Homo sapiens: one gene and its partners. The protein of the gene in region 2 purifies or fractionates together with the protein of the main gene of each other region. This does not show direct contact. Each region holds a gene or a part of one and is shown on either strand. Other genes may lie near its edges.

What was found.
Region 1: the proteins of GAN (region 2) and QRICH1 purify together in Homo sapiens (affinity purification with mass spectrometry; 2 studies listed by BioGRID and IntAct, with this or other methods). This does not show direct contact.
Region 3: the proteins of GAN (region 2) and WDR76 purify together in Homo sapiens (affinity purification with mass spectrometry; 3 studies listed by BioGRID and IntAct, with this or other methods). This does not show direct contact.

Annotation. Positions count from the first base shown.
Region 1 is NC_000003.12:49,059,364-49,063,115, forward strand, and holds part of QRICH1 (transcriptional regulator QRICH1), read right to left. Parts: intron 1-3,752. UniProt on the Homo sapiens protein: Transcriptional regulator that acts as a mediator of the integrated stress response (ISR) through transcriptional control of protein homeostasis under conditions of ER stress.
Region 2 is NC_000016.10:81,352,937-81,356,688, reverse strand, and holds part of GAN (gigaxonin), read right to left. Parts: intron 2,285-3,752; coding exon 1,934-2,284; intron 1-1,933. UniProt on the Homo sapiens protein: Probable cytoskeletal component that directly or indirectly plays an important role in neurofilament architecture.
Region 3 is NC_000015.10:43,850,999-43,854,750, reverse strand, and holds part of WDR76 (WD repeat-containing protein 76), read right to left. Parts: intron 3,665-3,752; coding exon 3,506-3,664; intron 1-3,505. UniProt on the Homo sapiens protein: Specifically binds 5-hydroxymethylcytosine (5hmC), suggesting that it acts as a specific reader of 5hmC.

The DNA of each region.
Region 1 (3,752 bases), on a different chromosome or scaffold from region 2:
TCCCACCTCAGCCTGCTAAATAGCTAGAACTACAGGAACACCACCACCACACCCAGCTAATTTTTTTTTTTTTTTTTTAGACAGAGTCTCGCTGTTACCAGGCTGGAGTGCAGTAGTATGATCTCAGCTCACTGCAACCTCCGCCTCCTGGGTTCAAGCTATTCTCCTGCCTCAGCCTCCTGAGTAGCTGGGACTACAGACGCATGCCACCACCCCCAGCTAATTTCTGTATTTTTAGTAGAGACGAGGTTTCACCATGTTGGTTGGCCAGGATGGTCTCGATCTCTTGACCTTGTGATCCGCTCACCTTGGCCTCCCAAAGTGCTGGGATTACAGGCTTGAGCCACCATGCCTAGCCTTATTTATTTATTTTCTGAGATGGAGTTTCGCTCGTTCCCCAGGCTGGAGTGATATGGTAGTCACGGCTCACCGTAACCTCTGCATCCCGGATTCAAGCTATTCTCCTGCCTTAGCCTCCCAAGTAGCTGGGATTACATGTGCCTGCCATCACATCCAGCTAACTTTTTTTTTTTTTTTTTGAGACGGAGTCTCGCTCTATCGCCCAGGCTAGAGTGCAGTGGTGCGATCTCGGCTCACTACAACCTCCACTTCCCCGGTTCAAGCGATTCTCCTGTGTCAGCCTCCCGAGTAGCTGGGACTACAGGTGCGTGCCACCACGCCCGGCTGATTTTTTTATTTTTAGTAGAGACAGGGTTTCACCGTGTTAGCCAGGATGGTCTTGATCTCCTGACCTCATGATCCGCCCACCTCGGCCTCCCAAAGTGCTGGGATTACAGGCGTGAGCCACCACGCCCAGACCTAATTTATATATACATATATATGTTTTTGAGACCAAGTCTCGCTCTGTCGCCCAGGCTGGAGTGCAGTGGTGTGATCTCAGCTCACTGCAAGCTCCGCCTCCCAGGTTCATGCCATTCTCCTGCCTCAGCCTCCCAAGTAGCTGGGACCACAGGCACCCGCCACCACGACTGGCTAATTTTTTGTATTGTTATTAGAGACAGGGTTTCACCGTGTTAGCCAGGATGGTCTTGATCTCCTGACCTCGTGATCTGCCTGCCTTGGCCTCCCAAAGTGCTGGGATTACAGGTGTGAGCCACCACACCCAGCCCTAATTTTTGTATTTTTAGTAGAGACGGGGTTTCACCATGTTGGCCAGGCTGGTCCAAAACTCCTGACCTCAGGTGATCCACCAGCCTTGGCCTCCCAAAGTGCTGGGATTATAGGCGTGAGCCACCATACCCAGCCCCCAGCCTGATTTTTTGGGCAGAAGTCCCCAACCCTGGGGCCAAGGACTAGTACTGGTCCGTAGGCGAACGACACAGCACAGAGGTGAGCATTACCACCTGAGCTCCACCTCCTGTCAGATCAATGGTGGCATTAGACTCTTGTAGGAGCACAAACCCTATCGTGAACTGCAAATGTGAGGTATCTAGGCTGCATGCTCCTTATTAGAATCTAATGCCTGGCCAGGTGCATTGGCTCACACCTGTAATCCCAGTACTTTGGGAGGCTGAGGAGGGCAGATCACTTGAGGCCAGGAGTTCAAGACCAGCCTGGCCAACATGGTGAAACCCCACCTCTACTTCTACTAAAAATATAAAAAATTATCCAGGCATGGTGGTGCATGCCTGTAATCCCAATTACCTGAGAGGCTGAGGCAGAATAGCTTGAACCCAGGAGGCGGAAGTTGAAGTGAGCAGAGAGAGCACCACTGCATCACAGCCTGGGTGACAGAGTGAGCCTCCATCTTAAAAAAAAAAAAAAAAAAAAAAAAAAAAAAAAATCTAACACCTAATGATGTGAGGTGAAACAGTTTCATCCCAAAGCACCACCCCCATCAATGTCTGTGGAAAACTGTCTTCCACAAAACGAGTCCCTGGTGCAAAAAACGTTGGGGACCACTGCTTTAGAGTGCTTACTTAACATATGTTTAATGGGAAAGGCATTTAAATAAACAGAATCCCAATAATTTAATCTGAGCAATATTACCATAACCTGGATGACATGTTTCTGATAACAATACAGTTACTGTCTTATTATTATGTCAGCATGCAAAAGAGCATGAAAAGAAAAAAATACATAGTATGCAACTTTTAAAAAACAGCTTTTACCATCAGACACATAGATAAATTACCCTAACCACAAGTAGGAATTAGAAAGGTAGAAAACAAGAAGGCAGAAAATGAGGCCAGGCACAGTTGCTCATGCCTGTAATCCCAGCTCTGTGGGAGGCCAAGGTGGGTGGATCACCTGAGGTCAGGAGTTTGAGACCAGCCTGACCGACATGGTGAAACCCCGTCTCTACTAAAAATACAAAACTAGCCAGGCATGGTGGTGCATGCCTGTAATCCCAGCTACTTGGGAGGTTGAGGCAGGTGAACTACTAAACCCAGGAGGTGGGGGTTGCAGTGAGCCGAGATTGCACCACTGCACCACAGCATGGGCAACAAGAGTGAAACTATCTCCCAAAAAAAAGAATATATGCAAATGGCCAAGAACCACATAAAAAGTTGCTCCATATCATACTAGCTGTGAAGGAAATTCCAATCAAAGCCACAATGAGAAACCACTTTATATCTAATAAGTTATATCTAAAAAAGACAGATAACAAGTATAGGTAAGGATATAGACAACTTGAAACTGCTGGTGGGCATGTTAAATTGGTGTAGTTGGCCAGATGCGGTGGCTCACACCTGTAATCCCAGCACTTTGGGAGGCTGAGGCCAGTGGACACAAGGTCAGGAGTTCCAGACCAGCCTGGCCAACATGGTGAAACCCTGTCTCTACTAAAAATACAAAAATTAGCTGGGCGTGGTTACACATGCTTGTAATCCCAGCTACTCGGAAGGCTGACGCAGCAAAATTGCCTGAACCTGGGAGGTGGAAGCTAGTGAGCCGAGATGGCGCCACTATACCCAGCCCAGTCAAGGACAGAGTGAGACTCCATCTCAGAAAAAAAAAAAAACAAGAAAAAATTGGTGTAGTCGCTTTTTTTTTTTTTTTTGGGAGGTAAAGTCTTGCCCTGTTGCCCAGTGGTGGAATCTCAGCTTACTGCAACCTCCGCCTCCCTGGTTCAAACAATTCTCCTGCCTCAGCCTCCTGAGTAGCTAGGATTACAGGCACGCATCACCATGCCCAGCTAAATTTTGCATTTTTAGCACAGACAGGGTTTCACCATGTTAGCCAGGCTGGTCTCAAACTCTTAACCTCAAGTGATCCACCTGCCTTGGCCTCCCAAAGTGCTGGGATTACATGTGTGAGCCAGTGTGCCTGAATTATACATTTCAAATGGGTAACTTATATCTCAATAAAGCTGTTACTAAGTATATTTTTTAAAAAAAGGCCGGGCGCTGTGGCTCACACCTGTAATCCCAGCACTTTGGGAGGCCGAGGCAGGCGGATCATGAGGTCAGGAGATCAAGACCATCCTGGCTAACATGGTGAAACCCCATTTCTATTAAAATAATTAGCCAGGCGTGGTGACGGGTGCCTGTAGTCCCAGCTACTCGGGAGGCTGAGACAGGAGAATGGCGTGAACCTGGGAGGCGGAGTTTGCAGTGAGCCAAGATCGCGCCACTGCACTCCAGCCTGGGTGACAGAACGAGACTCCGTCTCAAAAAAAAAAAAGGCTCAGGTTTTGAGATCACAGACTTCAATGTGAATTGATGCTGCACTTTTCTGCCTGTGAATCCATGGGGAAATTTAACCTCTAAACAGTTTCTTTAGGTACA
Region 2 (3,752 bases):
TAACACTCAGGTTATTACCAGGCAAGTGAGACACACTCGTGCTGCTTGAATATCTTCTCCTGGCCCTAACTGTCTACTTCCCAGAGTCTTGATAAGTAAAAGTTTAATTTTTAAAAATCATCAGTTTATTTGAGGTATCACTGTAAAAGTTTCAAGCAGCTTCCTTTACACCTTAAAGGATTCCCATTTCAATAGGAAAAGACAGGAAAAGAACCAGCTATAATTTGCTTTATTTCACACATTTGGATGTGCCATGAGTTAAATCATGTTTATACAAATATTATATACAGTAATAGCTCAATACAATATGGTAAACTTAGACATCAACATTAATAATACAAGAAAAATATACAAAAGCCAAAGTTTAAAAAAAAACCTGAGTACTATATAATCATTTTTGCAGTAATTACTGTTCAAAAATATCTAAGACGACTAATATGAATTTACACTTTTACTGCTCAATCACTAAATTTGAACTGACGAAAGTATTTTATAAATGTAAAATAAAACTGTGAGTTTTAAAAATCAACTGTCTTTACAGCATGAAGTTTAAACTGACCAAAGGACAAAGAACTGCCTCGTTTTCCCAGCAACCAGCCAACCTTAAGCATCTCCCTTGCTTTAAGGCAAGAAGAGGGCAGGACGGAAGCTGGCAAGGAGCAGCATGTCCCACTGTGGTCTTGGTGAGTGGGAGCACATAGGAAATTTTTCTCATTTTTCTATCTCCTTTACCAATTTCCCCAACTAACATGGAAAGCAGAACACTACCTGTCCTTACCTGTCCCAATTAAAACCAATACTACAAATATGGTTTCTAAACATGCATACTTATGGGCTTACAGAATTCAAAAAATTATAAGATAATCATCAAAATTTAACAGTCCAGTTTTAACTTACAAGAACAATTAACAGTAAAATTATACATTGTGAGATCCACTCTCTAACACCTAATATATTTCTTATTTTGAAAACAGTAATTGGAGCTAGTGTCTTATTTATAATAATCAGACTTAAAAATGAAGTCCTGGCTGGGCATGGTGGTTCACACTTGTAATCCCAGCACTTTGGGAAGCTAGAGTGGGAGGATTGCTTGAGCACAGGAGTTTGAGACCAGCCTGGGCAGCACAGCGAGACCCTGTCTCTACAAAAATCAAACAATTAGCTAGGCATGGTGGCACACGCCTGTGGTCCTAGCTACTCGGAGGCTGAGGTGGGAAGATCACTTCAGCCAGGAAGGTTGGGACTGCAGTGAGCTATGATCGTGCCACTCTGGCTACTGCCCTTCAGCCTGGGAGACAGACTGAGACTCTCTGCCCCCTCAAAACCCTCAAGTCCTGTGATTTTGCTCCTTCCTCCAAGGTATTCACAATTTGGATCTAGAGGCTGATATTCTTTAAGACCTTCACTCCCAGAACCTTCCCTCTTGAAACTGCACTGCCACACAAACTCCAGAGCCTGCCTGCTTTCTCCTGCGTGGTGTCAATCACACCTGAAGCTCCTCAGGCCCATGCCCCTCCACCCCTGCCATCGATCCACGTGCCACCCCCCTGCCTGCTGCAGGCACCTGAGGCCTGGCAGAGGTTAGCCTAGTGATATAGTAGGTCAGGATGCTGAGAGCAAGGGTGGGGATACTGCGTTTCTATAATCTCCAGCTTAAGCTTGAAATGCATTTTCCCATTAAAAACAACATACAAAGGATATTACGCTCCTTACAAGGGCTAATATTTTCACTGATATATTGTGTGGCATGGGCTTTTGCAGACTGGTCTGAAAAACCAACTGCTTTCATGATATAGGGGAACATGTTTTACAGGTATCTTTTAGATTGCTGCATCGTAAGTCTTTCATGATGAAGAAGAAAAATAAAACAACTAAAATTTGAATTAAAAAGAAATAAAAAGGCAAATTTGACCATGTTATAAATGACAGGTACCTTTCTTATTTCTGTATCATGTGCTATCCATCGAATTACTGCTTCAAAGACATATCTTTCATTGCCAACGTTTAACTTCTCAAGAGAAATCACTTCTTTAAGCTTTTGAGGACTCAGCTCTAAGAATTCTTCCGTGCTGCTGACGTCTCGGAAATGAGTCTCCAGGTATTCTGTGGCAAGGTAATGAACGTGATGGAGGCAGTAATGTAGTGCAAAGTCACGGATACCAATACAGTTCTCAGCAGCAATGCAGCCTTCCAAAAACTCACAGCACAGGGTTTTAAGGTCCGTCAGTAGCAGCAGGTCAGCTGCCTGAACAACATCTTGGATTGTATCTTCATTTAGCCTGATCTAAAAAAGTAGCATAATTATCTTATATTTGAATGTGTACATTTAAAACCCAAACCACTAACCTATTAATTGGGGCCACATGAAATTTCCATTTATTTTAGATCAAAGATAATCGAATATTGGCAATTTCATATGGTTTAACCCAGCATTTTTTTTTTTTTTTCCAAGAGTTGGAAGGCACCAACATAAGCAAATGTGTGCTTGGTTAACTTTTCCCAGCTCTGCCCTTGCTGTACCAATGTCAACCACCAATAACCCTTTTAGGGTGAACTGTCCATGTTGTTCACTTCTGTAATTCAGAGAAAAACCTTAATGACTCAAATGCTTGGGAAATGGAAAGTTCTACATTCTATGGTAAAGTCAACATGATTAAGTACCAGCATCAGAACTGATGAAAATCTTGCCTCCCCACCTATGAAGTTCACTCTTCCGCTAAATGGCATGCCAACCTGAATGCTAACCCCTTGAAGGGAGAGGGGTTTCCAGTGTTTCAGAAGCCTCATTCCGCATCCCAAAACACTGTACGCAGTGCAATTTGGTACACAGACAGATACACTTAGGTCTCAAAACTACTTTTTGGAATAAATCCCTAATACAAGGGTGTTTTTTTTTTCTCATTATGAACATCTACTTTTCCTTAATTTTCTTCAATTTTCTGACTAATGCTTCTTCCTCCACTGACTTCACAGTGCTCCAAAGCATCAGGAAAGAAACAGTTCTCTAAAATATTGCCACAGTCCTAAGTGGACGACCCCAAAGCATGGGCACTTCACCCACATTCGCAAATGCAAGGGAGACTTCATGAGGAGTATAGCAAGAAACATTTTTACATTTTACACTTTTTGTACCACAGATTTTTAAAAAAGTATAATTGCCAATCATCTTAGAAACTGAGCAACAAAAATGTGGAAAGTAGTATGGTGAGTAAGCCACAAGTAGGGGAAAATGTTCCATTTATATGACATTATATTTAGCCACAAGACAGCAGGCAGCTGTAGACTCTTCAAATATAGGCACGTGAAAAAAACACTCAACTGCATTTCAATAAAACAAAACTGCCAATTCAGGAGTTTGTTATAACTTACATTCCAACTATCGTTTTTTTTTTTTTTTGAGACGGAGTCTCGCTCTGTCGCCCACGCTGGAGTGCAGTGGCGCAATCTCGGCTCACTGCAGGCTCCGCCCCCTGGGGTTCACGCCATTCTCCTGCCTCAGCCTCCCGAGTAGCCGGGACTACAGGCGCCCGCCACCTCGCCCGGCTAATTTTTTGTATTTTTAGTAGAGACGGGGTTTCACCGTGTTAGCCAGGATGGTCTCGATCTCCTGACCTCGTGATCCACCCGCCTCGGCCTCCCAAAGTGCTGGGATTACAGGCGTGAGCCACCGCGCCCGGCCCCAACTATCGTTTTAAATTTAAATTGGGAACAAATCACAGAACTCAATCTGTAAATAATGTTTCAACTTTCAA
Region 3 (3,752 bases), on a different chromosome or scaffold from region 2:
TCTCGAACTCCTCACCTCAAGTGATCCACCTGCCTCGGCCTCCCAAAGCGCTGGGATTACAGGCGTGAGCCACTGCGCCCAGCTCTATATCTTGATTACGATAGTTACACATGTGTACACAATTCACCAAAACTCAGAGAATTATATACCTAAAGTGGTAAATTGTACCATATGTAACTTTTTTTGAGAGTCTCCCTCTGTCACCCAGACTGGAGCGCAGTGATGCAATCTCGGCTTACTGGAGCCTCACCCTTCCAGGTTCAAGTGATTCTCATGCCTCAGGCCTCCCAAGTAGCTGGGACCACAGGCGCATGCTACCACGCCCAGCTAATTTTTGTATTCTTTTAGAGGTGCGGTTTCACTATGTTGGCCAGGCTGGTCTTGAACTCCTGAGCTCTAGTGATCCACCCTCCTCGGCCTCTGTCAGTGCTGAGATTACAGGTGTGAGCTACCATGCCCAACCTATTCTTTGTATTATTGCAAATAATGCTTGTATGAACATTCCCGTACAAGTTTTTGTGTGGACATGTGCTTTCATTTCTCTTGGGTGTATACCTAGGAGGGATATTGCTAGGTCATATGGTAACTCTGTTTAACATTTAAGGAACTGTCAAACTTTCCCCAACCAACTTTACCATTTCACATACCAATTCTCAAAATATGAGGGTTTCAATTTTTCCACATCATTGTCAACACTTATTACTGGCAAGTATCGTTATCCTAGTGAGTGTAAAGGGGTATCTCATTGTGATTTGCATTTCCCTAATGAATAATGATGCTTAGAATCTTTTCATGTGCTTATTTGCCATTTGTGGGGTTTTTTTGTTTTTTTTTGTTTTTTTTTTTTGAGACAGTCTCGCTCTGTCGCCCAGGCTGGAGTGCAGTGGTGCAATCTCACCTCACTGCAAACTCCACCTCCCGGGTTCAAGCGATTCTCCTGCCTCAGCGTCCCCAGTAGCTGGGACTACAGGTGCCTGCCACCGCGCCTGGCTAATTTTTGTATTTTTAGTAGAGATGGGGTTTCACCATGTTGGCCAGGCTGGTCTCAAATTCCTGACCTCAGGTGATCCACCCGCCTCAGCCTCCCAAAGTTCTGGGATTACAGGGGTGAGCCACCGCACCCGGTGCCATTTGTGTTTCTTTAAAGAAATGTTTATTCAGATCCTTTGCCCATTTTTTAATTGGGTTAGCTTTTTTAATTAAGCTATAGGAGTTCTCCACCTATTGTTTTAAAGTCAAGCTTATTGAAATGTAAGTTACAGCCAGGCGCGGTGGCTCATGCCTGTAATACCAGCACTTTGGAAGGCCAAGGTGGGCAGATCACTTGAGCTCAGGAGTTTGAGACCAGCCTGGGCAACATGGCAAAACACCGTCTCTACTAAAAATACAAAAATTAGCCAAGCATGGTGACACATGACTATAGTTCCAGCTACTCAGGAGGCTTAGGTGGGAGGATCACGTGAGCCTGGGAGGCAGAGGCTGCGGTGAGCCGAGATCAAGCCACTTCACTCCAGCTGGAGTGACAGAGTGAGACCCCCATCTCAAAAAATAAAAATAAGTAAGGCCAGGCGTGGTGGCTCACACCTGTAATCCCAAGACTTTGGGAGGCCAAGGTGGGTGGATCACCTGAGGTCAGGAGTTCAAGACCAGCCTGGCCAACATGGGGAAACCCTGTCTCTACTAAAAATACAAAAATTAGCCAGGTGTGGTGGCACGTGCCTGTAATCCCAGCTACTCAGGAGGATGAGGCAGGAGAATTGCTTGAACCCGGGAGGTGGAAGTTGCAGTGAGCCAAGATTGCACTGCTGCACTGCAGCCTGGGCAACAAGAGCGAGACTCTGTTTCAAAAATAAATATATAAAGAAAGAATAGAAACACAAATGTTCATCAACTGATGAACAGATGAATAAAATGTGGAATACCCATACAATGGCATATTATGCAGCCATAAAAAGGAATGAAGTACTGATACACGGCTACAACATGGATGAACTTTGAATACATTTTGTTAAAGAAACCAGTCACAAAAGACCACAAATTGTATGATTTCATTTATATGAAATGTCCAGAAGAGGCAAATCTGACCACACACAGTGGCTCACGCTGTAATCCCAGCACTTTGGGAGGCTGAGGCAGGTGGATTACAAGGTCAGGAGTTCGAGACCAGCCTGGTCAACATGGTGAAACCCCGTCCCTACTAAAAATACAAAAATTAGCTTGGCATGGTGGCATGCGCCTGTAGTCCCAGCTACTCAGGAGGCTGAGACAGGAGAATCACTTGAACCTGGGAGGCGGAGCTTGCAGTGAGCCAAGATCGCACCACTGCACTCCAGCCTGGGCGACAGAGTGAGACTCCATCTCTACAACAACAACAACGACGACAACAACAACAACAACAAATTACCCGGGCGTGATGATGGGTGCCTGTAATCCCTGCTACTCAGGAGGCTGAGGCAGAAGAATTGCTTGAACCTGGGAGGCAGAAGTTGCAGTGAGCCGAGATCTCGCCACTGCACTCCAGCCTAGGTGACGAGAGTAAAACTCCGTCTCAAAAAAAATAAAATAAAAAAGTTCAACTTATAAGACTTATCTTATTGAGGCAATCTGATACAGTTAAGCAAATCTGAAAGTTCATTTCAAATGATATGTTTGTTTTAAACATTAAGTAGAAGATGTCTTATTTTGAGAGAGGGTCTCACTCTGTCACCCAGGCTGAAGTGCAATGATGTATGTGATCACGGCTTTACTACAGCCTCAATCTCCTGGGCTCAAGCAATCCTCACACCTCAGCCTCCTGAGTAGCTGTGACTACAGGCACATGCCACCACACCAAGCTAATTTTTTTTAGAGACAAGGTCTTACTATGTTGCCCAGGCTGATCTTGAACTCCTGGGCTCAAGTGATTCTCCCACCTCAGCCTCCTGAGTAGCTGAGACTACAGGCACACACCACCAAGCTCAGCTAATATTTTTTATTTTCTGTAGAGACAAGGTCTCGCCATGTTGCCCAGGCTGGTCTGGAACTCCTGGCCTGAAGTGAGTCTCCCACCTTGGCTTCCCAAAGTGCTGAGATTACAAGCATGAGCCACCACACCCAGCTAAATACAAGTCTTATGCCTAAAAACAGAAGAGTAAGTTATTTTAGTTAAAAGCTTTGGGAGAGAAAAAAAAAAGAAATTTAACAAGCGCAAACACATACTATGTGCCAGGCTCTCTTCTAAGTACTTTATCTGCATAAGCTCATTAAATTCTCATGACAACCCTGTAAGGTCAGTCCTGTTAAATCCCATTTCACAGCTAAGGAAAGTGAGGCACAACAAGGTTAAGCAACTTGTCAAGGTCATACAACTAGTAACAGATGATCTGGGATTTGAACTTAGGCAGCGTAGTTCTCAAAGTCCTTCTGCTATACCACTTCTCCCAATTGGTATAATAATTATTCATGTGGCATTTCGAAGAATCTAGAATATCATCTGAAGTCAGCATGTAAACACATTAACATTTACCTCTTCAAAAATAGCCCTGGAAAAATCCCCACAGCGTAACGTGCCATCATAGCTCAGTGACAGTATGTGGGCCGGATTGGCGGGTGAGAAGTAAAGACAGCTAACTGGCTGACTATGGGGATGAAAAACATAAACTCCATCTTCTTTAGGTTGCTGGGTCTGGAAGAGAGTTGCGGGAAAGGGGAGAGAGAAAAAAACTAGTGAAAAATAGTGATTTTTGCTATGCTATTATGTCATTAAAGAATTT